Regions from separate parts of the Homo sapiens genome. Here region 1 is linked to region 2. The links come from fine-mapping of genetic effects on gene expression. A gene starts in region 2. The other region holds a variant in brackets. All regions are shown on one strand. Distances are between the middles of the regions. Region 1 overlaps PANK3 (pantothenate kinase 3). Region 2 holds the start of PANK3 (pantothenate kinase 3).

Evidence for each region. PIP is the estimated chance that this variant, and not a neighbour inherited with it, causes the effect. A credible set is the group of variants that fine-mapping cannot tell apart.
Region 1: its variant is the best candidate, but not a certain one, in a credible set for the expression of PANK3 in fibroblasts (GTEx, PIP 0.56).

The regions. Positions count from the first base shown.
Region 1 is chr5:168,537,667-168,553,037 of GRCh38, forward strand. PANK3 (pantothenate kinase 3) reads right to left here. Exons shown (of 7, transcript NM_024594.4): 7 at 10,829-15,371. It also overlaps the pseudogene SLC2A3P1. Among named protein-coding and RNA genes, the nearest start is that of MIR103B1, 16 kb to the right of the region's middle. The variant T/C (reference allele first, on the strand shown) is at 8,766.
Region 2 is chr5:168,571,319-168,586,689 of GRCh38, forward strand. It overlaps PANK3 (pantothenate kinase 3), which reads right to left and starts at 8,050. Exons shown (of 7, transcript NM_024594.4): 1 at 7,938-8,050. The coding sequence starts at 7,965. RefSeq lists enhancers at 7,778-7,847, 7,938-8,481 and silencers at 7,998-8,327, 12,524-12,573.

The DNA.
Region 1 (15,371 bases), 34 kb before region 2:
CCCGGCAAGGGCCAAGTCGATCAGCCCAGTCAGGGTTGTCTCAGTATTGAAGGAGCCCCCAACGAAAGACTGGCAGTTTCTTGGGCCCTGAGGTGAGGAGGGTGAGGAGGAAGGGGTAGGAGCAGAGAAGTACTGAGTTAGTGGGGAACAGCATCTTCAGGCTTTTGCCCTCTTGATGGCCTATGCCCAAGGCCTCGGATAGTGGGACCCAGAAACGAAGATGCAGAGCATGAGCAGGGGAGGGGACTGAGTCCTTGACTGCAACTCCCTTCAGAGACTGCAGTGCACCAGGGTCCTCCTGAGGACTGCCAGGGAAAGCCTTTGGTCCGGCCTAAAAACATCACACATAGGTGCTGGCCAGGAGCCGGAGCCCTTGGGGTTTACCTTCTACAGACTGTAAGTACAGGCTCCCAGTACTTCAGTTGGTTTTTTGGTCTCTTGAGCAAAAGCATTTTATGAACTTCTCTCTAAATCTTGCCTTCGCACTTTTCACTTATTTCTCATGTTTGCCTCTTCCATCCCCTGGTGACCACCAAGCCGCATGTCTACTGCTCAGGACACACCTATCATCCTTCCCATCCCACTGCCTCCAGCCGAGCCTCTGCTTCCTGCCTGGAGGACTCAGGTGCCTGAAAACACAATGCAAGAATTCTAGCTGCTTGTAATAGCCATTGTGTTTGGCAGTTTTTGTTGTTGTTTTTTTTAATCTGGGCCACACAGGAAGGCTTCCAGAAACATTGGACAAGAGCTGAGGAAGAACCTGAAGTAGTTTTGATGGAAAACACTGTCTTTCTTACCTCTTCATGTGATTTTAGTCTTCTCCCACCCAAAAGTCCTTCCTTCCCACTCATCTTTCCATCTCACTGCCTCTGGGAACCCCAAATCCAACAGTTACTTAACCCATGAGGACTTCGATCCACCAATCCACCATCTTTTCACCATCCCTTCAATAAATTCCCATTGTCCTCATTTCCCTCCTCGCCTGGCTGAGATTTCATGGTCCATCATTATAATCACTTCCTTACATTACACTTATCCCTCTTTCCCTTCATTTTTGCTTGCAAACTGGCCAGTCCTTTCCCGAACCTACCTCTTTCTTGGAGAAAATCATCAAATGGAAACAAAGCTGCCAATACCAGCTACTAACAATGTTTGCCAGCTTCTCTTAATGCCACAGGTTCATTGGTTCATGACCTACCTTCCAAGGTATCATGTCATCAGGTTCACCTCTTCCTAAATGAACAGCATCCTTCTAGCCTCTGAAAACACCTTCTTTGCCACCTGCTGCCAGCCTCTAATCCAATGCCACATAGTTTAGGTTTTTGTTCTTCAGTGGCATTCCATCTCTGGTATCAACTTCTGTATCAGTTGGGATAGGCCAGGTTATGCTGGGGTAACAAACCCCTAAATCTGTGGTGTAAAAAAACAGTTTGTTTTCTTCCTTATACTCCACCTTCATTAATGTGGTGAGGGAGTGAGGAGAAAGGAGCTTTGCTAATTTTTGTCACTTAGGGATCCAGGCTGACAGAGCAGCCACTATCTCAAAGGCTGCTGGCTTCTATTAGCAGGAAAAGAGGGCTCTGGAGGGTATCAAATAGGTGACTAAGTGCTCCAGCCAAAAAGTAGCATGCACCACTTCCAAACACAACTCTCACTCACTAGTTGGCCAGAGCTAATCCTATGAACCCACCCTCTCAACTGCAAGGGAGCCAGCAAGCACAATCCTACCATGTAGCTAAAAAGCGGTTTATTGAAATCCGTGCTGAACATGAATGACCACCATCAGAAGATACTATTATTAGCCTCATTTTGCATGTGGTAAGGCACAGGTTAAGAATTTGTCTGAGACTTTATGCCTAGTAATTATGTCAGAGTAGGATTTGAACTCATGCTCCAGAATATTTTTGTTTTGTTTTGTTTTTTTGAGACAGGGTCTTGTTCTGTCACCCAGGCTGGAGTGCAGTGGTGTGATCTCGGCTCAGTGCATCCTCCACCCTGGATCAAGTGGTTCTCGTGCCTAAGCCTCCTGAGTAGCTGGGATTACAGACATGCACCACCATGCCCAGCTGATTTTTGTATTTTTAGTAGACATGGGGTTTTGCCATGTTGGCCAGGCTGGTCTCAAACTCCTGACCTCAAGTGATCTGCCTGGCTTGGCCTCCCAAAGTGCTGGGGACTACAGGTATGTGCCACCACACCCAGCTAATTTTTTTTTTTTTTTTTGAGACAAGGTCTTGCTATGTTGCCTGTGTAGCTCTTGAATTCCCAGCCTCAAGTGGTCCTCCTGCTTTGACCTCCCAAAGCACTGGGATTATAGGCATGAACCACTGTGCCTGGCCTAGAAGTTGTTTTCCTTTTAAACTCAAATCTCACACTCCTCTAACTGGCAAGTTTGGCCCATTAATATTTTCATCTTTCTGGTTTTTTCCACATTTAAATTGTCCTGCTTTTTCTGTATTGATTGCTCTTTCTTGTTATAACAAAATTTATTATTATTATTATTTCTGAGACAGGGTCTTGTTCTGCTGCCCAGGCTGAAGTACAGTGGTGCAATCTGGGCTCACTGCAACCTATGCCTCCTGGGTTCAAATGATCCTCCCACCTCAGCCTCCCTAGTAGCTGGGACCACAGGCAGGCATCACCAGCTAATTTTTAAATTTTTTGTAGACAAGGTCTCACTATATTGCCCTGGGTGGTCTTGAAATCCTGGGCTCAAGCAATCCTCCTGCCTTGGTCTCCCAAAAAGCTGGAATTACAAGTGTAAGCCACTGCGCCCAGTTCCAAATTATTTATTTGGATAACATTCTGGTGCCATATGCCATTTGTCCAATACAAAGAGGGTATTAAAAAAAAGCACTGGGATGGAGGTGAGGACACCTAGGGTTGAGTTTTGGTTCTCTTAATAACTTGCTGTGTGATCTAGGACAATCTAGTTGACTTCTCTGGACTTTTTGTCCTCCCTATAAACAAATCTTGAGTTTGATTCAGCAGTCTGTGAGATTCCTGCTAACTCTTGGATTCTCTGTTCCCAAGTTTGGCTGGTCACTGGCTCTTGATATGTGAAAAATCCTAGGGCACCTCTAATTTGAAGTTTGCTCTTAGACGATAAGAGTCTTTTTAAGATTCAGGATAGCTGGGTGTGGTGGGGCATGCCTGTAGTCCCAGCTAGTTGGAAGGCTGAGGTGAGAGGATCGCTTGAGCTCAGGAGTTGGGAGGCCAGCCTGGACAATATAGTGAGACTCTGTCTCTTAAAAAAAGATTCAGGGCCGGACGTGGTGGCTCATGCCTGTAATCCCAACACTTTGGGAGGACAAGATGGGCAGATCACTTGAGCCCAGGAGTTTGAGACCAGCCTGAGTCACATAGGGAAACCCTATTTCTGCAAAAAGTAAATTTAAAAAATTAGCTGCATATGGTGGTGCGTAACTATGGTCCCAGATACTCAGGAGGCTGAGGTGGAAGGACAGCTTGAGCCTGGGAGTTTGAGGCTGCAGTGAATCATGATACCGTGCCACTGCAATCTAGCCTGGGTGAAAGAATGAGACCCTGTTTCAAAAAAAAAAAAAAAAAAAGATTCAGGATGGCCATTTTTTCTTCACGACATTGAGAAGAGTTTAGACTAAAGTAGCATTATAGAGCTAGGCACGGTGGCTCACGCCTGTAATCCCAGCACTTTGGGAGGCCAAGGCAGGCAGATCACTTGAGGTCAGGAGTTCGAGACCAGCTTGGCCCACATGGCAAAACCGTGTCTCTATTAAAAATACAAAAATTAGCCAGGCATTTCTAGTTCTAGATCCCTGAGGAATCGCCACACTGACTTCCACAATGGTTGAACTAGTTTACAGTCCCACCAACAGTGTAAAAGTGTTCCTATTTCTCCACATCCTCTCCAGCACCTGTTGTTTCCTGACTTTTTAATGATTGCCATTCTAACTGGTGTGAGATGGTATCTCATTGTGGTTTTGATTTGCATTTCTCTGATGGCCAGTGATGATGAGCATTTTTTCATGTGTCTTTTGGCTGCATAAATGTCTTCTTCTGAGAAGTGTCTGTTCATATCCTTTGCCCACTTTTTGATGGGGTTGTTTGTTTTTTTTCTTGTAAATTTGTTTGAGTTCACTGTAGATTCTGGATATTAGCCCTTTGTCAGATGAGTAGGTTGTGAAAATTTTCTCCCATTTTGTAGGTTGCCTGTTCACTCTGATGGTAGTTTCTTTTGCTGTGCAGAAGCTCTTTAGTTTAATTAGATCCCATTTGTCAATTTTGGCTTTTGTTGCCATTGCTTTTGGTGTTTTAGACATGAAATCCTTGCCCATGCCTATGTCCTGAATGGTAATGCCTAGGTTTTCTTCTAGGGTTTTTATGGTTTTAGGTCTAATGTTTAAGTCTTTAATCCATCTTGAATTAATTTTTGTATAAGGTGTAAGGAAGGGATCCAGTTTCAGCTTTCTACATATGGCTAGCCAGTTTTCCCAGCACCATTTATTAAATAGGGAATCCTTTCCCCATTGCTTGTTTTTCTCAGGTTTGTCAAAGATCAGATAGTTGTAGATATGCGGCATTATTTCTGAGGACTCTGTTCTGTTCCATTGATCTATATCTCTGTTTTGGTACCAGTATCATGCTGTTTTCGTTACTGTAGCCTTGTAGTATAGTTTGAAGTCAGGTAGCGTGATGCCTCCAGCTTTGTTCTTTTGGCTTAGGATTGACTTGGTGATGTGGGCTCTTTTTTGGTTCCACGTGAACTTTAAAGTAGTTTTTTCCAATTCTCTGAAGAAAGTCATTGGTAGCTTGATGGGGATGGCATTGAATCTATAAATTACCTTGGGCAGTATGGCCATCTTCACGATATTGATTCTTCCTACCCATGAGCATGGAATGTTCTTCCATTTGTTTGTATCTTCTTTTATTTCATTGAGCAGTGGTTTGTAGTTCTCCTTGAAGAGGTCCTTCACGTCCCTTGTAAGTTGGATTCCTAGGTATTTTATTGTCTTTGAAGCAATTGTGAATGGGAGTTCACTCATGATTTGGCTCTCTGTTTGTCTTTTATTGGTGTATAAGAATGCTTGTGATTTTTGTGCATTGATTTTGTATCCTGAGACTTTGCTGAAGTTGCTTATCAGCTTAAGGAGATTTTGGGCTGAGATGATGGGGTTTTCTAGATACCATTTGACCCAGCCATCCCATTACTGGGTATATACCCAAAGGACTATAAATCATGCTGCTATAAAGACTCATGCACACGTATGTTTATTGCGGCACTATTCACAATAGCAAAGACTTGGAACCAACCCAAATGTCCAACAGTGATAGACTGGATTAAGAAAATGTGGCAAATATACACCATGGAATACTATGCAGCCATAAAAAATGATGAGTTCATGTCCTTTGTAGGGACATGGATGAAATTGGAAATCATCATTCTCCATAAACTATTGCAAGGACAAAAAAACCAAACACCGCATGTTCTCACTCATAGATGGGAATTGAACAATGAGAACACATGGACACAGGAAGGGGAACATCACACTCTGGGGACTGTTGTGGGGTGGGGGGAGGGGGGAGGGATAGCATTAGGAGATATATCTAATGCTAAATGATGAGTTAATGGGTGCAGCACACCAGCACGGCACACATATACATATGTAACTAACCTGCACATTGTGCACATGTAACTTAAAACTTAAAAAGTATAATAATAATAATTTTAAAAAAAATTAGCCAGGCATGGTGATGCGCATCTGTAATCCCAGCTACTCGGGAGGCTGAGGCAGGAGAATCGCTTGAACCAGGGAGGCGGAGGTAGCAGTGAGCTGAGATCGCACCACAGCACTCCATCCTGGGTGACAGAGAGAGACTTTTGTCTCTAAATAAATAAATAAATAAAATAGCATATTGGAAATGAACCCAAGAAAAAACAGAATGTCAATAATTTAGTTTGACTTGCTTGCCTAGAATGGGTCAAACCATAAATTTCATAATCAGGGTGAGAAGAGAATTGAATTTGTTGACACAAGTATAAATGTTTATTTTGTATCTTTGTAGAAGAGCTTTATTGAGGTATAATCAATGTACAATACACCACACATATTTAAAAGACAATTGGGCTGGGTGCCGTGGCTCATGCCTATAATCCCAACACTTTAGGAGGCTGAGGTGGGCGGATCACCTTAGGTCGGGAGTTCGAGACAGCCTGACTAACATGGTAAAATCCCCTATCTACTAAAAATACAAAAATTAGCCCGTCGTGGTGGCAGGCACCTGTAATCCCAGCTACTTGGGAGGCAGAGGCACAAGAATTGCTTGAACCTGGGAGGCGGAGATTGCAGTGAGCTGAGATAGCGCCACTGCACTCCAGCCTGGACCACAGAGAAAAAGAAAAAAAAGGACAATTTGATGAGTTCTGCTATATATACCCGCCCATATGAAAGTATCACAGTGTAATGAATACATCCACCACACCCACAGGTTTCCTCCCTGTCTTCCTCCAGCTCCTGGACCCACACAACCAAAAAGAAGGGATACTTTCAACAAATGATACTGAAACAACCGTAAATCCACATGCAAAAAAACAAAACAAAACAAAACAAAAACCCTGAACCCTTACCTCATACCATACACAAAGATTGATTGATTATAGGCTGAAAGATAAAAATTAAAACTACAAATTGCCTAGAATAAAACAGGAGAAAATATCCATGATCTTGATTAGGCGAAGATTTCTTAGGACACAAAAAGTGTAAGCATAAGAAGCTGGACTTCAACAAGATGAAGCTCTGTTCCTCAAAATAGTATTAAGAAAATAAACAGATAAGCCATAAATTTGGAGAAACTATTCAAATATATATCCAACAAAGGACTTCTAACTAGAATATATGAAGAACTCTTACAAGTCAGTAACAAGACAACTCAATGAAAAATGGGCAAAAGATTTTGTCTTTATAAAAGAAGATATATATGAAAGGCCAATAAGGATCTGAAAAGATGCTCAATGTCATCAGTAATCAAGGAGACACAAATTAAAAGCACAGACAGACCATATGACACACAGGTAAGAATGGCCACAATTTAAAAGACGGACAATACCAATTGTTGACATGGATTCAGAGCAAGTGGAACTCTCAGACACTGCTGGAGTGAATGTAAAATGGAACCTCTTGGAAACTGTTTTCCATTTTCTTACAGAGTTACCATACAATCCAGCAATTTCACTATTTATCCCAGATAAAAACATAGGTCCACCCAAAGACTTGCATGTAAATGTACAAGCGAATGGATAAACAAATTGTAGTATATTCATCCAATGGACTATTAATGAGCAGTAAAAAGGAATGAAGTACTGATAACAATATAGATTAACCTCAAAACCATTATGCTGAGAGGAAGCAGACCCAAGAGTACACAACACAGCAAATCTATAGGGACAGAAAGTAGACAGTAGCTCTATGAAGTCTAGGGCTGGGAGAGAAAGAGAGATTGGGAATATCTACTGTATTGGTCCATTTACATAAAAACTCTAGAAAAGACAAATTTTATCTAGTCTACATAAGACTTTTTATGTAGTCTACATATCTACATAAAAACTCTAGAAAAGACAAATTTTATCTAGAGCGAATCAGTGGCTGCTTACAGATGGGGATGGGAGGGGACTGACTAAGATGGAGGAAGGGAACTTTTTGGAATGATGCAAATACCTTGGAGTGGTGGTTACATGGGTGTACACATTTATCAAACTTATTTAAATGTACAGTTAGAATATTAATGTATAAGCCATACCTCAATAAAATTGATTATAAATAGGTCCAAACCCAAAACTAAACCAAAATCAGCAAGATTAATTACAAATTCACTGAAATCATTTTTGAAGTAATAAACTTTGCAGGTTTGTCCCGAAAACCTGCAAAGGTGCTTTAGGAAATCTGAAAACACAAGGTGTCAGAATATTTTATTCAAACTGTCAAAATGAGACAACTAAAAAAGCTGCTATATGACGTGCAATTGTCTCTCTATCCATGGAAGATTGGTTCCAGGAACTTCTGCAGATACCAAAATTCATGAATGCTCAAGTCCATTATATAAAGTGCGTAGTATTTGTATATAACCTACACATCCTCCTATATGGTTTTTTTCCCCTTCTGAGTCTGCTTGCTAGGGAACTCCTATATACTTTAAATTATCCTTATTTTTAATACCTAATACATTGCAAATAGCTGTTATACTGTATTTTTTACTTGCATTATTTTTTAAACTTTTATTTTAGGTTCCAGGGTGCATGTGCAGGTTATACAGATTAACTCATGTTACAGGAGTTTATTGTACAGATTATTTCATCACCCAGGTACTAGGCCTAGTACCCAATAGATATTTTTCTGATCCTCTCCCTCCTCCCAGCTTCCACCCTCAAGTAGGCCCCAGTTTCTGTCATTCTCCTTTGTGTCCAGGTGTTCTCATCAAGCTTCCATATATTATTTTTATTGTTGTATTATTTTTTGTTTCAAATGTTTTCAATTCACAGTTGGCTGAATCTGTAGATGTGTAACTCACAGATATGGAGGGCCAAGTTACTTTTTTCAAGTTCAGCTGCTTGAATTCTTTTTTTTTTTTGAGATGGAGTCTCGCTCGGTCACCCAAACTGGAGTGCGGTGGCACAGATCTAGGCTCAGTGCAAGCTCCGCCTCCCGGGTTCATGCCATTCTCCTGCCTCAGCCTCCCAAGTAGCTGGGACTACAGGTGCCCACCACCACGCCTGGCTAATTTTTTTGTAT[T/C]TTCAGTAGAGACAGGGTTTCACCGTGTTAGCCGGGACGGTCTTGATCTCCCGACTTCGTGATTCACCCGCCTGGGCCTCCCAAAGTGTTGGGATTACAGGAGTCAGCCACTGCGCCTGGCCAGGTGCTTGAATTCTTTTAGTGGTATCATTTAATGTTTTGTGTTTTTTTGTTTTCAAAGAAATCTGGGTTGGCTGGACTCCAAACTCTTGCTAGAAGAAAATGAGGAAAATGGGCTTAAATCAAAAAGAATATGCCTTCATAGTTTTGGTAATTTTTGCTACTGTTTCCAGAAACTGTAAAGGTTATGTTTAAAGCCCTGGCTGGGGATAAGCACTTACTTACCTAAACATATGGTCAACTGCACTTTTGGGGTATTGTTAACCTCTGGGTAACATTAAAAACTATCAGAAAGTACCAATTTTCTATGAAAAGGATGTAAAGTTCCAGAAGCTAGTCAGGTTTTCCAGGTTTACTTTAGGGAAAAAGTCAAATCTTAAACTCCTCTCCACCCACCAAAACCAGATGTATAGGAATATCTTAAAATAGGAACTTATAGTATTACCATAGAAAATGATCAATAGATTTTTAAATGCAGAAATATTAAAGTTTGTTCAGTACACAATACACTCATTAAGGACTATATCATAGAAAGTAGACATCCTGCTTTCAAAATTTATTTTTTTCGAGACAGAGTTTCGCTCTGTCGCCCAGGTTGGAGAGCAGTGGCACGATCTTGGCTCACTGCAACCTCCACCTCCTGGGTTCAAGCAATTCTCATGCCTCAGCCTCCCCAGTAGCTGGAACTACAGGTGTGCACCACCACACCCAGCTAACTTTTGTAATTTTAGTAAAGATGGGGTTTTGCCACATTGGCCAGGCTGGTCTCGAATTCCTGGCCTCAAGTGATCCACCTGCCTTGGTTTCCCAAAGTGCTGGGATTGTAGGTGTGAGCTACTGCTCCTGGCCACTTTCAAAATTTATATAGCACTGTGTATTGACTCCAGTACAGACTTTTCCCTCCTTGGAAAGTTTATTTAAATGAAAGACTTAAGTGTGTAGCCTTGAATGTATGCTCTTTAGGAGCTTATTTCTAAGTGCTTGCGACAGCAGTACTTCCTACATTTGAATAGCTAAACTACACCTCAAATCTCTTCCATACTGCATCATGTTCTCCTTTAGTCCAGATCTTAGATTTTTTTCATCCTAGTTCTTGCTAATTTTTTTTAAATAAAAGATATGTACTTCACATGTCACATGGTAGTCATGTTCACGTTTTCAACTATTCCTCTACGCTCCAAGTAAAGACAATAATATGATTTGAAAACTATGCCTGGAGCCACGACAATCATACAATTTGAAAACACAGCCATCAAGTTTCCAACTTACTGCCTCACATATTAAGATGATTTTTTTAAACAAACTTAACAGGCGATGGATACTCCATTCTCCATGATGTGCTTAATTCACATGCATGCTTGTATCAAAACATCTCACATACTCCATAAAGCCTGTAATCCCAACACTTTGGGATGCCAAGGTGGGTGGATCACTTGAGCCCAGGAGTTTGAGAACAGCCTGGACAACATGGCGAAACCCCATTTACACACACACACACACACACACACACACACACCACACAAACAAAATGAAACAAACACCTAACCAACAAACAAAACCATAGCCAGGCATGGTGGTGCATGCCTGTAGTCTCAGCTAGTTGGGAGGCTGAGGCTGCAGTGAGCTATGACTGCACTACTACACGCCAGCTCAGTCAACAAAGAGACTATATATAAAAACAAAAACAAAAACAAACCCAAAACCAAAAAGCCAACAACATTCATTTCTGATGCAGGATAACATGGTCTCAGGGGGGCAAGTTTTCACATCTTAATAAATGCAAGCCCTGAATTTCATCAATGCCTTCTCTGTGCCAGGTACTGGGGATCTAGAGGTGAACAAGACTTTACAAAGTTCTTGCTCTCACAGAACTAACCACAACCTTGCATTTAATCACAGTGAAAATGTGGGAATATGTAAGTTAAATAATAAAAAGGCACACATAGTAAACAACTTAGATAATTTATTTAGAAAGTAGAAAATAAAAAGTATGATTCTAACATCTATTTAGAATATGAACAAAATTAGAAATGGTTAAACTACAGAAAAAAAGGCAGAGAAACTGAAGTTGGCTTAATGGTTATCCAATACAAACAAGCAAAACCCAAGTTACCTTCATGCAAATAAGCATTAAGGAAAAGAATACGGGAATGTTTACAGAATGCGCCATGGCAAACATTTTTCAAATTTACATAAGATACTGTACATAAATGAAAAAATAAATTAGGTAATTTACAAGAAATGTTTTACAGATTACAATAGGCTATAACTTAGTTTATTATGAATAAAATTTATGGCACATCATACATTTTTACATCACAGATTCAGTGTTAAAAGAATTCAGACATGATAAAGCTTAGACTTGACAAGAATGATGTAATAGAATGAGGCAACTGAAACTGAAATGGCATGTGTAAGTAAAATTAATCCCCAAATTAAAGGATTCCTTAGATTGGGACATAATAACATCTTCTGAGTACACTTTGGTCAATAACTGGTCATTAAGATAAACGCCATTCAATTTTAGTTAAAAAATCAGTTTTTTGCTGTAGTTTAAATAAAAAGTAAAAGCACACAGTGTATAAAAAATAATAAAAACCATCTTAATATTGCTTACATCCTAATACTATTAGTTATATTCGGGGCAAGCAGACTAGGATATTGGTGTTACTTCTATAAAGTTACCTTCTGTTTCTAAATGCTGTAAACTAAACTAAAACAGGTTACCCAGAAAAAAGTGGCAAATTCCAAAATGGCTTAATACCTGTGACAACTATTGACTGAGCCAGGTACAACATCGATGAAATTCAGACATACAATGTAAAGTTGAAATAATCCCAAATTATTTTACATTATTTATGTATACTTTACAAATAACACAAATATGGAAATGTTTTCTTGGAAAGCTGTTGGAACTGTAAGCACTGCAACGTATGAAAGAAACATATTTAGCAATAAAAAATTTAATAATATCCTACAACTGAATTAGTTGCATATTTATACCATTCAAAATCTTGATTTTAACCTCATTCACTCCTTTGAAAAATACATTCCTCTTTTGTTCTTTTAAATGCAAAATTAGTGGCAGTTGCAGCAAAAACGCCGAAATTCTATAAGAAAAAAACTGATTTACCCCAAACATATCATTCAGCACAAACTGCGGTACCTGAAATCCCAGTATCAGCTCATAGTACATTCATTCGTTCATTCATTCATTCATTCATTTTTGAGACAGAGTCTTACTCTGTTGCCCAGGCTGGAATACAGTGGCATGATCTGCCCTCTGCCTCCCGGTTCAAGTGATTCTCCTGCCTCGGTCTCCCGAGTAGCTGGGACTATAGGTGTGTGCCAACAAGCCTGGCTATTTTTTGTATTTTTAGTAGAGACATGGTTCTTCCCACATCTATCCCCACTCACAATGATCAGAAATAAGAAACAGCTTTTTAAAAAGGGCCACTAAAAAATCCCAAATATATGTAACACAAACAGTCCGACTTAACAATGGTTTGACTTATGGTTTTTCAACTTTATAATGGGGCAAAAGCAATACACATTCAGTTAAAAACTGTACTTCAAATTTTGTACTCTGATATTATCCTGGGATAACGATATGTGGTACAATACTCTTATTTGAGATATTAAACACTTCATTATAAAATAGGTTTTGTATTAGATGATTTTGCCCAGCTAAAGGCCAACGTTAAGTGTTCAGAACACATTTAAGATAGGCTAGGCTAAGCTGGGATGTTCAGTAGGTTAGGCGTATTAAATGTATTTTCAACTTACGGTATTTTCAATTTACAATGGGTCTACTGGAACATAACCCTATTGTAAGTCAAGGAACATCTGTATTCTAACATTTATGAATAATTTTTTGTACAATGAAAAAGTCATAATGCCCATATAATTCTGAAGTTAACACAGTAAAAATTCCAGATAACCTTTACAGATTTAAAAGTACAAACATTTTAATATACATATAAAACCTTTCATATTACTTTAAGGTATATCTACCTGGCCATTACAGGCAATCACATATTAAGAGAGAATACCATTCTACTGGTTTGGTGAGAATCCAATACCTAGTACCTATCAAATATATACCAATAAAAATTATGTAATAACTTAAAATTATATAAGCACTAAATATTAACTCCAAAACATGACACCAAATACCTGAAAAAAAATTTACTTTAGTTATCTCAAACACAGCCATGAATGAAGCAATTTTCTCAGGACCCTGAAAACTGACTCATTTCCCATCATAACAAACCAACTCCCTCATTTTACAAATAAAAATAATGTTCAAAGAGGCAAGACCAGTGACCAACACTACTTCTAATACAATACCAAATATGACCTCACATTCACTGAATATGCAGGAATAATGCAAATAAGTAGTGACTGCTTTGAGAAAACATTTGAATTTTTTGGAAGTGGAAATTAATTATTCAAAATTTAGATATGTCAGAAAAGCTGGGATGATTGATTTTCACACCACCATTATCGTGAATGGGCTATCCAAATACTCTTAACAGAAGGAATTCCTTTTTTAGGTCTTTAGTGATTATTACTAGGCTCAGTAGAAACCAGAAGACAATTATTCTCTTAAATATTGAAAAGAGGCAGTAATATAGATAAAACACACTATTTTCTGAGATTATCTGATGATAGAAACAAAGTTGGCTGAATTCCTTAGGTATTAGAATAAACATAAACTTGATCATGGATACCTCATGGCAGATCACTTTAAGTGAGGTCAGAGAGTATTATCACAAAAAGATAATATATTTCTAATGTTTTGTTCACACCCACCACAAAACAGTTAAGTTAAATTCAAAATAATGTACACTCATTTTCATTATCCTCTATCAGTTTTCACATGGCTTTAAACAGTGAATTTCTAAACTACATTCTCAAATGCAATAGACTAAAATGCATAAAGTGCTCAACAGAAAAAGATACAATATGAAAAAACTTTGCTTATAATATACAGAGTGGTTATAAAGAACATATGGAAATTACTATCCAGTTAAGCTTTCCATCCAAGAAAACAACCTTAAAAATCAAGGCAAGATGGACTACTCTTTGAAGGCAAGAATACTGCTGGAATAAGAGGAAAACCTTTCCACTTTGTGCTGCATCATTCTGCTTATAGAAACAGTCTTTAAGGGACTGGTATTTACATTATAGCAATCACATGTACACTCAAAGGTAAAAGAAAAAAAACCTCAGAAATTTTTATAGAGTCTAATATTTGGCAAATAATCTGAACCACTTTAAGGGCTTTCAATTACCATGTATATTACTGGCAATAGTACTGACTTTACCCAAACTAAGAGACCACCTAATTTCCAACTTTATTTAGAGTAGCTGAGCAAGGAACTGCCATGTCAAATTACATGGCAAGTTTACTAATAGTCTTTGGAAAAGATGAGTGTAGAACTTAAAAGGCACTAGTTCTACAAGTCTCTAATTAAAAGGCAATCTTCTCGCGGGGTCAGGGTGGTGGTGATGGGAAATTCTATACCTTGTGTTGTTTGCCTAGCCTCACAGCAAACTGACAGTGGTTGCATTTGAAAAAGTTACCAGATTTTTTAAGAATGAAAATTAAGCCCAAAAGTTACAAAGATTTTTCTGTGTACAGAGGTCTACAATGCATTAAAGTTTCTTTTTAATCCTTAGAAATTGGCTGCTCAAAGTCCAATTTTAGAAATGAAGTCAATGGAATCATGAGATCTGCTTCAGTGAAGTACGTATGTATTTTGGGTTGTTGGGAACTATGCCCAGTTGACTCATACTCTCTCAAATGTGGTCTACTGGAAAGATTCAGGTCCCCTAAGAGAACTTGGCATAGTACCATGGTCAGATGGTAACAGAAATACATAAGCATGCCATGACCCTAAAGCAACAACACACTTAAACTAGATAATAATTGTTCAGGAAGAGCAATCCAACTAGAAAGTTGGAGGTCCAGTTGGAGCAACCAGCCACTGCTATTGCAAACTGAAGAGTGTGGCCACAGTATTCCAGGGAACGGAGTCTGGTCCAACTTCAGAGAAGGCCACAAAGACCAAGATAGCCCCACTACAGACAAAGCTCATCCCACCATACTCATCCTTTAATAACAAAGAAACAATCATGAGGACAGAACAAAACGCCATGCCTCAAGACCTATCATATGTAAAGTCCTTCCTGCCCTTTCAACCACAAACAGAGAGACTACAGTCAAGAAGATAATATTAACCACTCCTGCACTAATCTATAGATTGGCTTCTCAACACCTGCATCCTTGAAGATTCTCATTGAGTAATAGAAGACAACATTGATTCCAGAGAGCTACTGAGAGAGCTGGAGCATGATGGAAATGACAGTGGGTTGTTGGTAGCTGGGTACTCTAAAGAGCGCCAGTGTAGTGACTTGCTTTTCTTGTATCATCCTAGCACTCTTATCTCCTAGATGTCCTGGGACACATCCTGAGTCCCC
Region 2 (15,371 bases):
TACAGCTAACATTTACTGAGTGCTCACTACCTGTCAGACACAGGCTCATTTAATCCTCAGTACCCCCACTATAAGATTGCTCTATTAAGTGTACCACTTAGACAAGGAGGCAAAGCAATTACAAACTTGCCTGAGGTCAAACTGTTAAGTGACAGTGCCAAGATTCCATCCTAAAAATATATATTTCTATTCTCTAGGATCTTAACTATTATGACAGAGACTCAAAAAGAGTTTAATACTCAAGATACATGGATTAAAATGTCTGGCAACAAAATATATTTAACAGTTTTTATGTAAAAGTTGCCAATAAAAATTATTTCTAAAATTCTACTTTCTCATTTTATTTGATATGTGTGTGCATTACAAAACCAGGAACATATAATTCAATGAGAAAGAAGTCTATACATTTCTCCATTTTATAATTTACACATTTACTAAAATTAGTATATAATTTTTAATACGAGGAAGGAGTAATCCTCATTATCTTCTTTTGGAGAAATAGCTCGTTCGTCTTTATATTTGAAACTCAAATTAGAGATCTGGAGCTACATTACAGATAATCTTAAGAAACAGTATTCTGTATTCTGGAAAGGTACTTCCAGTGTAGGAAAAAAAGTTTTTTAAAAAAGTAAAATGACATTAGACCATAATTTGGGAAGCCAGGGGCAGCTTTGAGCTCAAACACAATACTTCATCACGTCAACTATAAACAGGTATAAATAACTAAGCAACATAAGCAGAAGAAAGTGACTATATTTTCTCAGTTTTGTTGAGTGCCTAGCAACATAGGCCTTTTTTTTTTTTTTTTTTTTTGAGATGGAGTCTTGCTCTGTGGCCCAGACTGGAGTGCAGTGGCATGATCTCTGCTAACTGTAGCCTCCACCTCCTGGGTTCATGCAATTCTCCTGCCTCAGCCTCCCAAGTAGCTGGGACTACAGGTGTGCACTACCACGACCAACTAATTTTTTTATTTTTAGTAAAGAAGGGGTTTCACCATGTTGACTAGGATGGTTTTGATCTCCTAACCTTGTGTGTGTGTGTGTGCAACAAGGCTGTTTATTTCACCTGGGTGCAGGCGGGCTAAGTCCGAAAAGAGAGTCAGCAAAGGGTGGTGGGATTATCATTAGTTCTTATAGGTTTTGGGATAGGCAGTGGAGTTAGGAGCAATGTTTTGAGGGCAGGGGGTGGATCTCACAAAGTACATTCTCAAGGGTGGTGAGAATTACAAAGAACCTTCTTAAGGGTGGGGGAGATTACAAAGTACATTGATCAGTTAGGGTGGGGGAGAAACAAATCACAATGGTGGTATGTCATCAGTTAAGGCTATTTTCACTTCTTTTGAGGATCTTCAGTTGCTTCAGGCCATCTGGATGTATATGTGCAAGTCACAGGGGATATGATGGCTTAGCTTGGGCTCAGAGGCCTGATGTTCCTGTCTTCTTATATTAATAAGAAACTCAAAACAAAATAGTGGTGAAGTGTTGGAGCAGCAAAAAACTTTGGGGGTGGTATGGAGAGATAATGGGCGGTGTTTCTCAGGGCTGCTTCGAGTGGGATTAGGGGTGGCGTGGGAACCTAGTGTGGGAGAGATTCAACTGAAGAAAGATTTTGTGGTAAGGGGTGATATTGTGGGGTTGTTAGAAGGAGCATTTGTTGTATAGAATGATTGGTGATGGCCTGGATACGGTTTTGGATGAATTGAGAAACTAAACAGAAGGCACAAGGTCCAAATCTAGCCTACTAGAAATGTGTTCGTTCCTTGAGTGCTGTTTTTAAAGAAAGGTAAACTAGAGAGCTATCCTGCAGATGATGACTTCATAGGAACCATAATATGCAAACCAGAAAATTGCAGGCTCCTTCTATTATTTCTAGCATATATCAGTTATAACAATTTTCTCCTTAAAATCAACAAAGCAGGGACTGAAAGAGAACTCAGCCCTGCTATAACTTCAATTAAGAAAAAAGAAAAGTTGGTGGCTGGTAATGGCCACCTTTTACACTGAAATCCTTTCAATTCAATAGACTTCAGAAATTAATTTCTTTATGCCAGAAAAATAATCACTATTAAAAAGCACGAGATGCAGAACCTCAGCAAGGCAAAAAAAAAAAAAAAAAAAAAAAAAAAAAAGGCACAAAGAAGGCAGCACAAACAGAAGAGACATAAATTCTCAATTATGATACACTCCTTTGTTTAAATCTTTTTTTAAAAATTATTATTATACTTTAAGTTTTAGGGTACATGTGCACAATGTGCAGGTTAGTTACATATGTATACATGTGCCATCCTGGTACGCTGCACCAACTCGTCATCTAGCATTAGGTATATCTCCCAATGCTATCCCTCCCCCCTCCCCCCACCCCACAACAGTCCCCAGAGTGTGATGTTCCCCTTCCTGTGTCCATGTGTTCTCATTGTTCAATTCCCACCTATGAGTGAGAATATGCGGTGTTTGGTTTTTTGTTCTTGCGATAGTTTACTGAGAATGATGATTTCCAATTTCATCCATGCCCCTACAAAGGACATGAACTCATCCTTTTTTATGGCTGCATAGTATTCCATGGTGTGTATGTGCTACATTTTCTTAATCCAGTCTATCATTGTTGGACACTTGGGTTGGTTCCAAGTCTTTGCTACTGTGAATAATGCTGCAATAAACATACGTGTGCATGTGTCTTTATAGCAGCATGATTTATAGTCCTTTGGGTATACACCCAGTAATGGGATGGCTGGGTCAAATGGTATTTCTAGTTCTAGATCCCTGAGGAATCGCCACACTGACTTCCACAATGGTTGAACTAGTTTACAGTCCCACCAACAGTGTAAAAGTGTTCCTATTTCTCCACATCCTCTCCAGCACCTGTTGTTTCCTGACTTTTTAATGATTGCCATTCTAACTGGTGTGAGATGGTATCTCATTGTGGTTTTGATTTGCATTTCTCTGATGGCCAGTGATGGTGAGCATTTTTTCATGTGTTTTTTGGCTGCATAAATGTCTTCTTTTGAGAAGTGTCTGTTCATGTCCTTCGCCCACTTTTTGATGGGGTTGTTTGTTTTTTTAGTAAGTGGTCTAATTACCAACATATATTTTCCAGTATTATCTACAAAATACTTATGATTGATATATGTCACCAAAATAAGGGGAGGGCATGAAGCTCAAACTTTACTTATTTGCAGTGAAAATATGAGTAAATATACAGACATTAAGTACAACCACAGGTCCACCTAATAGTTCCATGAGGTAAGAAAAACACCCGTTTCCTGGCCTGGTGCGGTAGCTCACATCTGTAATCCTAGCACTATGGGAGGCCGAGGTGGGTGGATCACCTGAGGTCGGGAGTTCGGACAAGCCTGGGCAACATGGTGAAACCTCGTCTCTACCAGAAATACAAAAATTAGCCAGGCTTGGTGGCGTGTGCCTGTAATCCCAGCTACTTGGGAGGCTAAGGCAGGAGAATTGCTTGAACCCAGGAGGCAGAGGTTGCAGTGAGCTGACATCATACCACTGCACTCCAGCCTGGGCGACAAAAGCGAGACTCCATCTCAAAAAAAAAGAGAAAAATACCAGTTTCCTAGGAAATCAAGCAAGTATCTACATATTTATAGCTTTGTTGCTTCTAGCCAAGAGACCCTTGAAAAGTAGGTCATCAGTGCACAAGCAGCCTACTTACGGCATATAACCTTAACATTTTTTTTTTCAGAATAAAACATTCCTTGCTAAGGTGAAAAAAAAGAACCAAAATACACATTTAAAAAGCAAAACAAAACACACATTACACAAATATAAGCACTTTGATGATGGTCAATATACAGTCCCAGACTGTGAGAATTATTAGAATCTCTCATGACCTGTTCATTATGCCTTTAACAAAATAATAGCTCTTATTCTATGTCTCAAGTGGTCTTATGAGAGTTGACATTAGTTCCCCATATGTAGCAAAAATATCTCAAACTACTACAAGGATGAAGTGCTATGTCTTACCAGACGCATTATATATGCAAAAGGAGAAATCTTCTTGTCCAATCACCTTTTAAGATACTAAACAGCAGAAGCTATCTAGCCACAAGAGCAGACTGTTAATTTCTAACAAGGTGTGATAAACTCAGTATCCTACTAAGTGTTTGCTAAGGAAGCAGAGAACACTAACATAACTATTTAATTGCTACTGGTACCATGCAGATTTCAGACTAAAGGGATCCTGGCCAGGAACATGGCTCATGCCTGTAATCCCAGCGGGAGGGTCACTTAAGCTAAGGAGTTCAAGACCAGCCTGGCAAGGGCAACATGGCAAAACCCCATCTCTGCCAAAAACAAAAAAATTAGCTGGGCATAGTGGCAAGCACCTGTAGTTCTAGCTACTGGGGAGGCTGAGGGGGGAGGATTGCTTGAGCCTGGCATGCCAAGGTTGCAGTGAGCTGAGATCGTGCCACTGCACTCCAGCCTGGGTGACAGTGTGAGATCGCGTCTCAAAAGAAAAAAAATAAAAAGAAATAGGGGAGGGGGGAGATACTAAACTAAATCAGTACTTAATTGTTCTTTAGGCATAAAGGGAAACCAACATGAAAAACGCTCGAAACATAGGGTATTTTAAAAGAACAAAATTATAAAGTTAGCATGTATGCTGGTATATTCTAGATAACGCTTCAACTTCCTGGATAAGACATTTCACTATTCTCAATAATCATTCCAAACAAAAATGGGTTTTGTTCTGAAATAGACTTAAGAAAATAATCATCTTCAGACCCTCAGTACTGATTCCTTAGGACAGCTTCAGGTAAGTGGTTTTTTCTTTAGTAAATTAGTTATTTCTAAGGGGAGCTATATTAGAAACTACTACCCCAACTATCTACTGGGAGTGATGACTCATATTACAACTGAGTTTACAACAGGCCAATCAAATTACACAGACACAAACTACAAATATATGCTATACCATTTTCTCTGGTCTTAACAAAAATTTCAAGTACCTTACTACTTGGGTTAATAAAGCACAAACTCAAAACCTACATCACACCACACTTAAATACATGTATCACCTTTTACTATCACCTTGTTAATCCAGTTACATGCTATACAGGTAACCCAAACACAATCTTAAAAATCTGTACCCTAAGAAATCATGGCAGGCAGGGAAGAGAGTAACACAGGATTGACTTTCTCCTTCCTTCCCCTGGCGTTGAATTAACACATAATTTCAAATGCTAATCTTCCAGTTACACAATTTAGAGGATGAAACTAATTCCTTTTTAAATCTTCTGGTTAATATATGCATTCGGGTTTATAACCTGTTAAGATATTGGTAATGTATTTAGAAGAAATATTTTCTAACACTTAGGTAAATAATGTGAAGCCAAGGTCACTTGTTTAGCCAATATAATATACAGCTTCTTCTAGTATGCAGTTAAATGATGCAATGCACATAAAGAAAATGCCATACACACACTATGTGATCAATAAATGTTTTAATTATGCCAAAAAAAACCCCATACAGGTATTCAAAAACAAAACAAATATATCTTTTGTTAACCTGAGTGATTTAAAGTTAAAATAATATTAATATTATTATTATTATTATTATTTGAGACGGAGTGTTGCTCTGTTGCCCAGGCTGGAGTGCAGTGGCGTGATCTCGGCTCCCTGTAACCTCCGCCTCCTGGGTTCCAGCAATTCTCCTGCCTCAAGCCTCCCGAACAGCTTGGACTACAGGCGCGTGCCACCATGCTCGGCTAATTTTCCTATTTTTAGTAGAGATGGGGTTTCACCATGTTGGTCAGGCTGGTCTCGAACTCCTGACCTCGTGATCTGCCCCACTCAGCCTCCCAAAGTGCTGGGATTACAGGTGTAAACCACCGTGTCCAGCCTTATTTTTTATTATCTGGGACAGTTCATGGTTGAAATACCTTCTTTCCCACACACAAAACGTCATGTTCCTTACTTTTACTACAAACAACAGACAGTAAAGTTACCTTTTACATATAAAAATGTTAGGCTTCTACACCATAGTAACTGACCAGATTTTCAGCATGATTCAATTTTAAGATTAATGGTCTCACAACATACCACAATGTTGTAATAATCAACTTATTTGGGGAAAAACAGGGGGTATTCTCTAATTTCTCAACCTAATGTGTATTTTTAAGTCTTTGGCTGGGACTACAGGCGTGTGCCACCATGCCCGGCTAATCTTTTTATTTATTTATTTGTAGAGATGAGGTCTCACTATGGTGCCCAGGTTGGTCTCGAACTCCTGGCCTCCAGCGATTCTCCCGCCTCGGCCTCTCAAAGTGCTGGGATTTCAGGTGTGACCCACCGTGCCTAGCCCTATTTTATAAACTTCTCATAATAATCTTTATAATCTCTCCTAAAACACCTTTGAAGGAGGTAGTACTCATACCTGATTATTAGTTTGTTCAAATCTAAGTAATCAAATCACTATCATGACAAAAGAAAATAATCACCACCACAAGAGTCAGAATTTGAGTTGGTCATACACTGTTCACCAAATGGAAATTCTAAGAGAAGCAGAGAAAACGTATGCGTGAGGGAAAATGTCCAAGTGTTCTAATTACTGCACCTGTTCAAGATGCATTAGTTTAATTCAGCAAATGAAAATTTAAAGTCTCTCTATATTACTTTTCATTTAAGCCTTCACATCACTATTTTATAGATTTCTTGAACAACTATGACAGGATCTATTCAGTTATAAATAATTTTTTAAAAATTTTAATTAACAGATGAAACTACCAGATAAAGTACTTAGACAATGCTCTATGGGTGCAAGAGAAAGAACACTGTATTATGAGTCAGTCCCCTTAGAGTTATGAACCACATAGCACATGGTTGGTACATGCTTGGAAAAGTTACTCTGGGGCTAAGTTCAATTTCCTCACCTGTGAAGTTAAGACCAAATTACCTTACAGTTATATAGGAATTTGTAGTTTTCACAGGGTTTTGGCTTGTTGCCTCTCAGGTGAGTTTTACAGGAACCCCGATAGGCGGGCAGGGAAGGTGTCAGCGCCCTGTTTTATAGTTGTGGATTTCTTAACAGTTAAAGAGATCACATGAAACACTGTAAAAACAGCAAAAGTATCAATACGACTCTAAGATGAGCATGAATCCCCACGTTCCTAGTCCTTCTGGGAGGCTATACTTAAAAAGAGTGACAATCACAATGGCTGGGTGATTAAATAAGTCAATTACTGGAATAAAAGGTTTTTAAAAGACTAAACATAAAAGGAAGCAAATGAAAGTCGACCTTTCTAAAAGCATAGTCAGAATTTAAGTACATGCATAGAAAAATATCTACGGGTATTCACCATAATATTAATAGCGGTTCGCTCCGGGTGCGGGGAATACGGGTGACTTTATCTTTCTTGTTTATCTGCGTTTTCTAAAACAAACATGAACTAGTTGATATTCTAAACAAAAACAAGCCAAAGCAATTACACACTGGCAGACTGCATGCACGTACGTTTGAAAGCTCCAACTGTAACAACAGTGACAACTCCCAGGAACCCACCGGCATTTCAAGGACACAAGCAGGAAGCCCGGAAATCCCTAAAAACAGGTGCTAAAAGCCGCCAGCGCAACCTGACAGCCGCGACCGCCTCTTTTCAACCTGAATTCAGGGGGAGCTGGGAGAGGAGACTAGTCTGGTTTGACAAAAATCAGAATCAGAAATTCCCTCTGGCACCTCCCAGATCTCGAAGAGAAAGTGGGAGGAAAGGCTAGGGGGCGGCAGGCATTCACCATGCATGAATAGGGGGATGGGGAGGACGGAAGCCTCGAACTCGTGGCTCAAATGGTCCCTCCGCCCCCATACCGGACGAAGCGCCGGCGAGGAGCGACGGGCTTGGAAGCCGACCGCCCAGCCAAGGGGCTTTCAGACGGGGCCCAAGGGTGCCCTCCCAACCTGGCGGGCCCCAGCCCCCGTCTTACAGGGTTTCTTGGCATCTTTGATCTTCATGGCGTCGGCCCGAGGGGCGATGGACGGCCTCCGATCCGGGGCACTGAGAGCAGAGGCGGCGACTCCGGAGGTGGCTGGGCCGCGCGGCGAGGCCCGGCCGGTTCCTCCCCTCAGGCCGGGCGGGGCCGGCCTAGGGCGGGGCGGCGGCGCCTGAGGAGATGCCCGGCCCAGGGGGCGGCCCCCCACCCCCGCGAGGGGTGGCCGGGACCGAGCAAGCTGGGGAAGGCCGCCGGCCTCGCCGCTCCGGGGCCCCCCCGCAGCCGCTCCAAACAAAAGGCCCCGGTCCCCGGAGCCGCCGCCACCGCCGCCGCCGCCGCACTGAGAAATAGCCCGCCCAGGCCGAACGCCCACGTGACGCGAGCCCCCCCTCGCTCCGCTTCCGCCCGGCTGCTGGGGATTGTAGTTCTCCGGTTCGTGAGGCCCCGCTCTCTGGCTGTAGTTGTGCAGGTGGACTACAAAGCCCGAGATGCATCGCGGCCCCTCCTCCGAGGCCCCTCAGCTTCCGCAGATCGCCTCAGAGTGGTCCCAGCGAGAAGAGGGCTGGGTCTTAGTCACGCCAGCGAGGAGGCGACCAATGGTGACTGAGATGGGCGTGCTGGGGAAGTCGGGCTCAGACCTCAGCAGGTCGCGGAGAGAAGGGGGAATGAACTCTTCGAGAGGACTGTCATGGCTGTTCGGCCATTCTCAGATTTCCCCTTGAGACAGGAAAGCTGGTCGTCAGGCCATGGAAAGCGCTACAATCAGGGCTCTAGAGCTGTGCTTAAGATAGACCCTTGAGTACATTGGCGGATTAAAATTATTCACAAAGGAATCCTTTTGCTTAATAGAGACACCTTGAATGTTAGGGTCGGAATGATGACAATAGCAGGAATAGAGGTAACATCTATGGAACGCGTTATGTTCATGGGACTCTGCTAAGCACTTTGTGTGATTTACTTAAATTCAGGGGCCTTGTGGACCACGTGCAATTATTCATTTTATTGTCACTCATTTTGAAGATGGGGCACGGTCTGAGGAGTTAAATTGCTTGCTGAGCATTCTTTTTGCCACCGATCCATATTCCCCTGGGGCCCTCCAGCCCAGCTCTCTCCTTCTAAAGGGAAAACTGACTCCCAGAGAAGAAAATTTAGTTGCTCCAGTTCTCACAGTAAAGCCAGGACACCCTTTCCCCTTGCCTCCTAGAGTCTTAGTCCTCCAGCTGGAATGGGAGAAGATGGCATTGGGTATCTTCTCTTGGCCTTCACTTTTGTTGCCCAGTTAGATGGCCAGGAATTCTGTAGTTTTTACAATAGATGGATAGAGGGTTGGCAGTAGAGGATTGGGCATTCCAGTCAAAGAAACCCGCTTACCAAAGAGCCTTACTGCCCCTTCTTGCAGATGATAAGCCAAGGGATGTGAAGAAGGACAGGAGAGGACACAAGCTACCATTTATTGAGTACATACCAAGGGCTGACACTTTGCAAAGTGCCTTACTTTTAAAATTTAAATTTAATCCTCCCAACTACTTTTTGAAATACAATGATTAAAAACTAAAAAAACTTGCTGGGCGCAGTGGTGTGTGTCTGCAGTCCCGGCTATTTGGGAGACTAAGGTGGGAGGCCCAGGAATTTGAGGCTGTATGTGATAGAGTTTGTGAATAGCAACTGTGTCAGAGGCATTTACCAGAGCGACTCCATCTTGAATAGGGATTGGATGAAATAAGGCGGAGATCTACTGGGCTGCATTCCCAGGAGTTTAAGGCATTCTTAGTTGCAGGGTGAGATAGGAGGTTGGCACAAGATACAGGTCACAAAGACCTTGCTGATAAAACAGCATGCAGTAAAGAAGCTGGCCAAATCCCACCAAAATCAAGATAGCAATGAAAGGAACCTCTGGTCGTCTTCACTGCTCATTATATGCTGATTATAATGCATTAGCATGCTAAAAGACACTCCCACCAGTGCCATGACAGTTTACAAAAGCCATGGCAACATCAGGAAGTTATCCTATATGGTCTGTAAAGGGGAGGAACCCTCAGTTCTGGGAATTGTCCGCCCCTTTCCTGGAAAACTCGTGAATAATCCACCCCTTGTTTAGCATATCATCAAGAAGTAATAATAAGTATAAGCAGCTGAGCAGCCCATGCTGCTGCTCTGCCTATGGAGTAGCCATTCTTTTATTCCTTTACTTTCTTAATAAACTTGCTTTCATTTTACATTCTGGATTCTCCCCAGATTCTTTCTTGGAAGAGATCCAAGACCCTTCTCTTGGGATCTGGATCGGGATCCCTTTCTGGTAACAACTGTACTCCAGGCTAGGTGACATAGTGAGACCCATCTCCAAAATAAAATAAAAATGTTAAAAGTTAAAGAAGAATTCACACAAATTCAAATATTGGTTCTATCACTTGTTAACAAACATGGGCAAATTACTTCATCTCTCTAATTCTTTAAAAAAAAAATTTTTTTTAAGATGCGGTCCCACTGTGTTTCCCAGGTTGGAGTGCAGTGGCATGAGCAAAGCTCACCGTAACCTCAAAGAGCAATCTGTGGGTGGGGCGGTGGCTACACTGTAGTCTCAGCCTCCTGAGTAGCTGGGACTGTAGGCATGTGTTACCATGTCCAGCTAAGTTTTTTATTTTCTGTAGAGATGGGGTCTCACTTTGCTGCCCAGGTTGGTCTTGACCTGCTGGCTGGCTTCAAGCAATCCTCTGCCTCAGCCTCCCAAAGTTTTGGGATTACAGGCATGAGCCACTGTACCTGGCCGTCTCTCTGATTCTTGTTGGAAATAATAATGCCTACATTTCACGGGTTTGAGATGGGGATTAAGTGAAAAATGCGAATAAGGTAACATGGCGGTCTGAATGTTTGTATTCGAACATGGTCTGAATTCAGTATTGAGAGGTGGGGCTTTTAAGAGGTGAATGGATCGTGAGGACTCTCCCCTCATGAGTGTATTAATTCATTCATGGATTGATGGTTTAAGGAGTTAATGGATTTATTAAAAGAGGCTTTATTAAAAGAGTAATAGTAAATCAAACGTAAAATCTAGAATCAAAATCTGGTCTGATTGGTGCCATGTGGTTCCTTATCTTTTACCTTTATTAAAAGAGGCGGAGGCCAGGTGCAGTGGCTCATACCTGTAATCCTAGCACCATAAGAGTCAAAGACAGGTGGATTGCTTGAGCCCAGGAGTTTGAGACCAGCCTGGGCAACATGGTGAGACCAGGCATGATGGCTCATGCCTGTAATCCCATCACTTTGGGAACCCAGAAGTTTCAGACCAGCCCCAGCAACATAGCATACCCAGTTTCAAGTGTTCTGTTAAAAGCAGCAGAAAAGGCTGGGTGTAGTGGCGCATGCCTGTAATCCCAGCACTTTGGGAGGCCGCGATGGGGGGATCACGAGGTCAGGAGATCGAGACCATCCTAACTAACATGGTGAAACCTCGTCTCTACTAAAAATACAAAAAAAATTAGCCGGGCATGGTGGCGGGCACCTGTAGCCTCAGCTACTCAGGAGGCTGAGGCAGGAGAATGGCGTGAACCTGGGAGGCGGAGCTTGCAGTGAGCTGAGATCGCACCACTGCACTCCAGCCTGGGCAATAGAGCAAGACTCTATCTCAAAAAAAAAAAAAAAAAAAGCAACAGAACATGGACTATGATGTATGTAACATATTATCTGGCATATATGTAGTGATCAGTAAGTAATGATTATGTTTATTATTTGGATTGTTATTCTTTTTTTTTTTTTTTGAGATGGAGTCTCACTCTGTACCCCAGGCTGGAGTACAGTGGTGTGATCCTGGCTCACTGCAACCTCTGCCTCCTGGGTTCAAGTGATTCTCCTGCCTCAGCCTCCCAAGTAGCTGGGATTACCAGCGTGTGCCACCACGCCTGGCTAATTTTTGTATTTTTAGCAGAGATGGGGTTTTGCCATGTTGACCAGGCTGGTCTCGAACTCCTGACCTCAAGTGATCCACCTGCCGTGGCCTTGGATTGTTATTCTTATTGTAAAGTAAAGGAAGAAAGCTTTTGTATTTAGACATTTTGCCTAAGGTCATTATTTGGGATCAGACCATAGGTCTAATTAGGTAAAAGATAAGGAACCACATGGCACCAATCAGACCAGATTTTGATTCTAGATTTTATGTTTGATTTACTATTTTGATTCCAGATTTTATGTTTGTTGTTTAGAAAATTTTTTTTTAGGGACGAGGTCTCACTCTGTCACCTGAGCTGAAGTGTAGTGGCGAGATCTCACTCTGTCACCCAAACTGAAGTGTAGTGGCATGATCATTGCTCACTGCAGTCTCCAACTCCTGGGCTCAAGGGATCCTCCTGCCTCAGCCTCCCGAGTAGCTGGGACCATAGGCATGGACCAAAACACCCGGCTAATTTTTTTATTTTTTAATTTTTTGTAGAGATGGGTTCTCACTTTGTTGCCCAGGCTGGTCTCAAACTCTTGGCTTCAAGCCATCCTCCCACCTTCACCTCCCAAAGTGTTGGGGTTACAGGCATGAGCCACCTTGCCTGGCCTTTATTTGTTTTGTTTTGTTTTGTTTTTTATAGAAACATCTTTCTGAGCTACCAGGAATATGACTTGGCAAGTTAGAATCCTGAATGGTAGACTTAACCTGCACTTCCTCTTTTATTTCCTGTTATTACTCTATCCCACACAGAACCTTAGATATTCTAGAATGGTCCTGTTTTCCACAGTTTTATTGGATGAGAGTCGTGATTTCTGATCTGACATGGCTTCAAAGAATACTCACTATCTAATATGATTTACCTGCTGCTTTTATAAATCTTATGGGCACACCAAGTTCTCTGACAACATATATCTTTTGGTTGTTTCTGGTTCTCTTTGACAGTATCAGCTTGGAAGTCAAAGGGGAATTGATACGTATGTCTTGTGATAGTCTGGCCATGGTCTGAAAGGAAGAAGAGCTAGAAATTAGAAGCCACAGAAATTTGGGTAAGTTTTGGGCACAGGCTCTTGCTAGTTTCTGTGGCCATAGAGATGAGTGTACACATGGATGACTTAGCTTAAAAGTTAGGCTATACACCTGTGATATTACTAGAGTTAACCATCTATTTGCTGTTTGTTCAAAGATGAGACTACTCTTTGGTCTGTTATGCCAGAAAATCACTGAACTTTGAATAGTGAGAATTCCTGTCTCAGATCAGCCATACAATTGCTGTGTGACCCTGGGAAAGTCCTTTTTCTCTCTGGGCTTCAAATTACCCATCTGCAAAATGAGATGACTGTTGGAGATTTTTTTTTTCTCTTTTTGAGACGGAGTCTCGCTGTGTCGCCCAGGCTGGAGTGCAGTGGCATGATCTGTGCTCACTGCAAGCTCCGCCTCTCGGGTTCACGCCATTCTCCTACCTCAGCCTCCCCAGTAGCTGGGACTACAGGCACCCACCACCATGCCTGGCTAATTTTTTGTATTCTTAGTAGAGGTGGGGTTTCACCGTGTTAGCCAGGCTGGTCTCGATCTCCTGACCTTGTGATCCGCCCGCCTCAGCCTCCCAAAGTGCTGGGATTACTGGGATTACTGGCGTAAGCCACTGTGCCCGGCCTAATATCTGCCTCCCAGGTTCAAGCGATTCTCCTGCTGCAGCCTCCTGCGTAGCTGGGACTGCAGTTGCCTGCCACCACGCCTCCCTAATTTTTGTATTTTTAGTAGCGACGGGGTTTCACCTTGCTGGCCAGGCTGGTCTCAAACTCCTAACCTCAGGTGATCTGCCTGCCTTGGCTTCCCAAAGTGCTGGGATTACAGGCATGAGCCACTGTGCCTGGTTTTTTTATTTTTATTTTTTTGAGACAGAGTTTTGCTCACCCTGGCATGAGCCATGGTGCCCAGCCCAGAGATTTCTTTCATCTCTACTTTTTGAATTTCACTAAGAACCTGTTCCCTTTTCAGGACCAATGTGAAGTGTGTTCAGTTCACTAAGAACCTGTTCCCTTTTCAGGACCAATGTGAAATGTGTTCAGCCATGTGTTTCCTAAAGTTTTCACCAGTGTGATTGAAACTGACAGGTCATCCTGTTTTAGTTTGTGGCCACTCTTCCTTCTGCAGCCTGCGTTGGCTTTCAGCCCCAGTCCCTCCTCCTAGCACCATCTGGTTAATTGCATTTTCTCTCTTTTCTAGCATGTCCTCAAAACCCATTCCTGGCAGAGTGAATGCAGGAGCTGGGAAAAGCATCTAAAGGGGCCAAGAGACTGTCTTCTTGTCTCAATATTTATTGTCTATGAAACACAATAAATCCAGCCCATCATGCAAAATGATAGAGGAGACCTGACACATCTTCATTTTGCCTTTACTGAGCGGGTATCCACAGAGACAGGTGGTGAGTTGTACCTAATGATGACTATAGGTCTCCTGGTATGAATAAACACACACACACACATGCGCACACACGCACACATGCACACATGCACACACACACACATACACTCACACCCTACACACCCTTCAAAGCCCAGATGAAGCTTTTAACAGCGGATTCTGTCTCTAATTAAATGGTCAAGAACATACTTCAGTCAGTCATTGGATCCACAAACTCAAATAAGCTAGGGGAGAACATCATGAATATTAGCATCCTCAGTCATCATCCTTGTCATCATCATTATCAGCAGCAGCAGCAGCATCGTCATCATCACTATCATGATAGTGGAAGCACAATTTAATTCAAAAATACTAATTAAGCTTGAACTATCTTCCAGGCACTGGAGTACTTGCTGGGGGTGGAGAGAGGTGAAAAAGAGAGAAACAATAATTAAGTTAACAAATCAATAAACAAGAATAGGCTATAATAAGTGATGTGAAGGAAATAGTCAGGTTGATGTGCTAAAGAGTGGCTGGGGCTGTGGAAGATTGGTTGGGGGTTCAGGCTTTATTCTAGATTGGATGGGCCAAGGAGGATAATCTCAGAAAGTGGCATTTAAGCTGGGACCCATGCAGATTGCTGGGAAAGAGTGTGCCCGACAGAGGTGTGACTGGTCCTGAAGGTAGATTTTTTTTTGAGGAACAGAAGCAGCAATGTGTGAGGAGTAGAGAGTGAGGTGTAAAGTGATAGGAGATTAATCAAAGAGTTGAGCTTGCTGGCCCTTGAGGGCCACCTGAAAATTTTAAGCAGGGAGTGATTTGTCCATGAATTTAGAGGATTATTTTGGCTGCTTTGTGGAGAATGACTGGATGGGAGAGGAGTTATGACTTGGAAATGAAAAGACTAAGAGACTCCCATCCTTCTCAACCCACACAGAGTCAGTCACCAAGTCTGAGGGGTTCCCGGAGCACTCCAGGCATTGTACAGGGACTTGAATCATTATGGGAGCAGCAGAGACGGGGAGAAGTGTTGGATCAAGAATTTCATTTAATAGTTGGGTGTGGTGGCATGTGCCTGTAGTCCCAGCTACTCA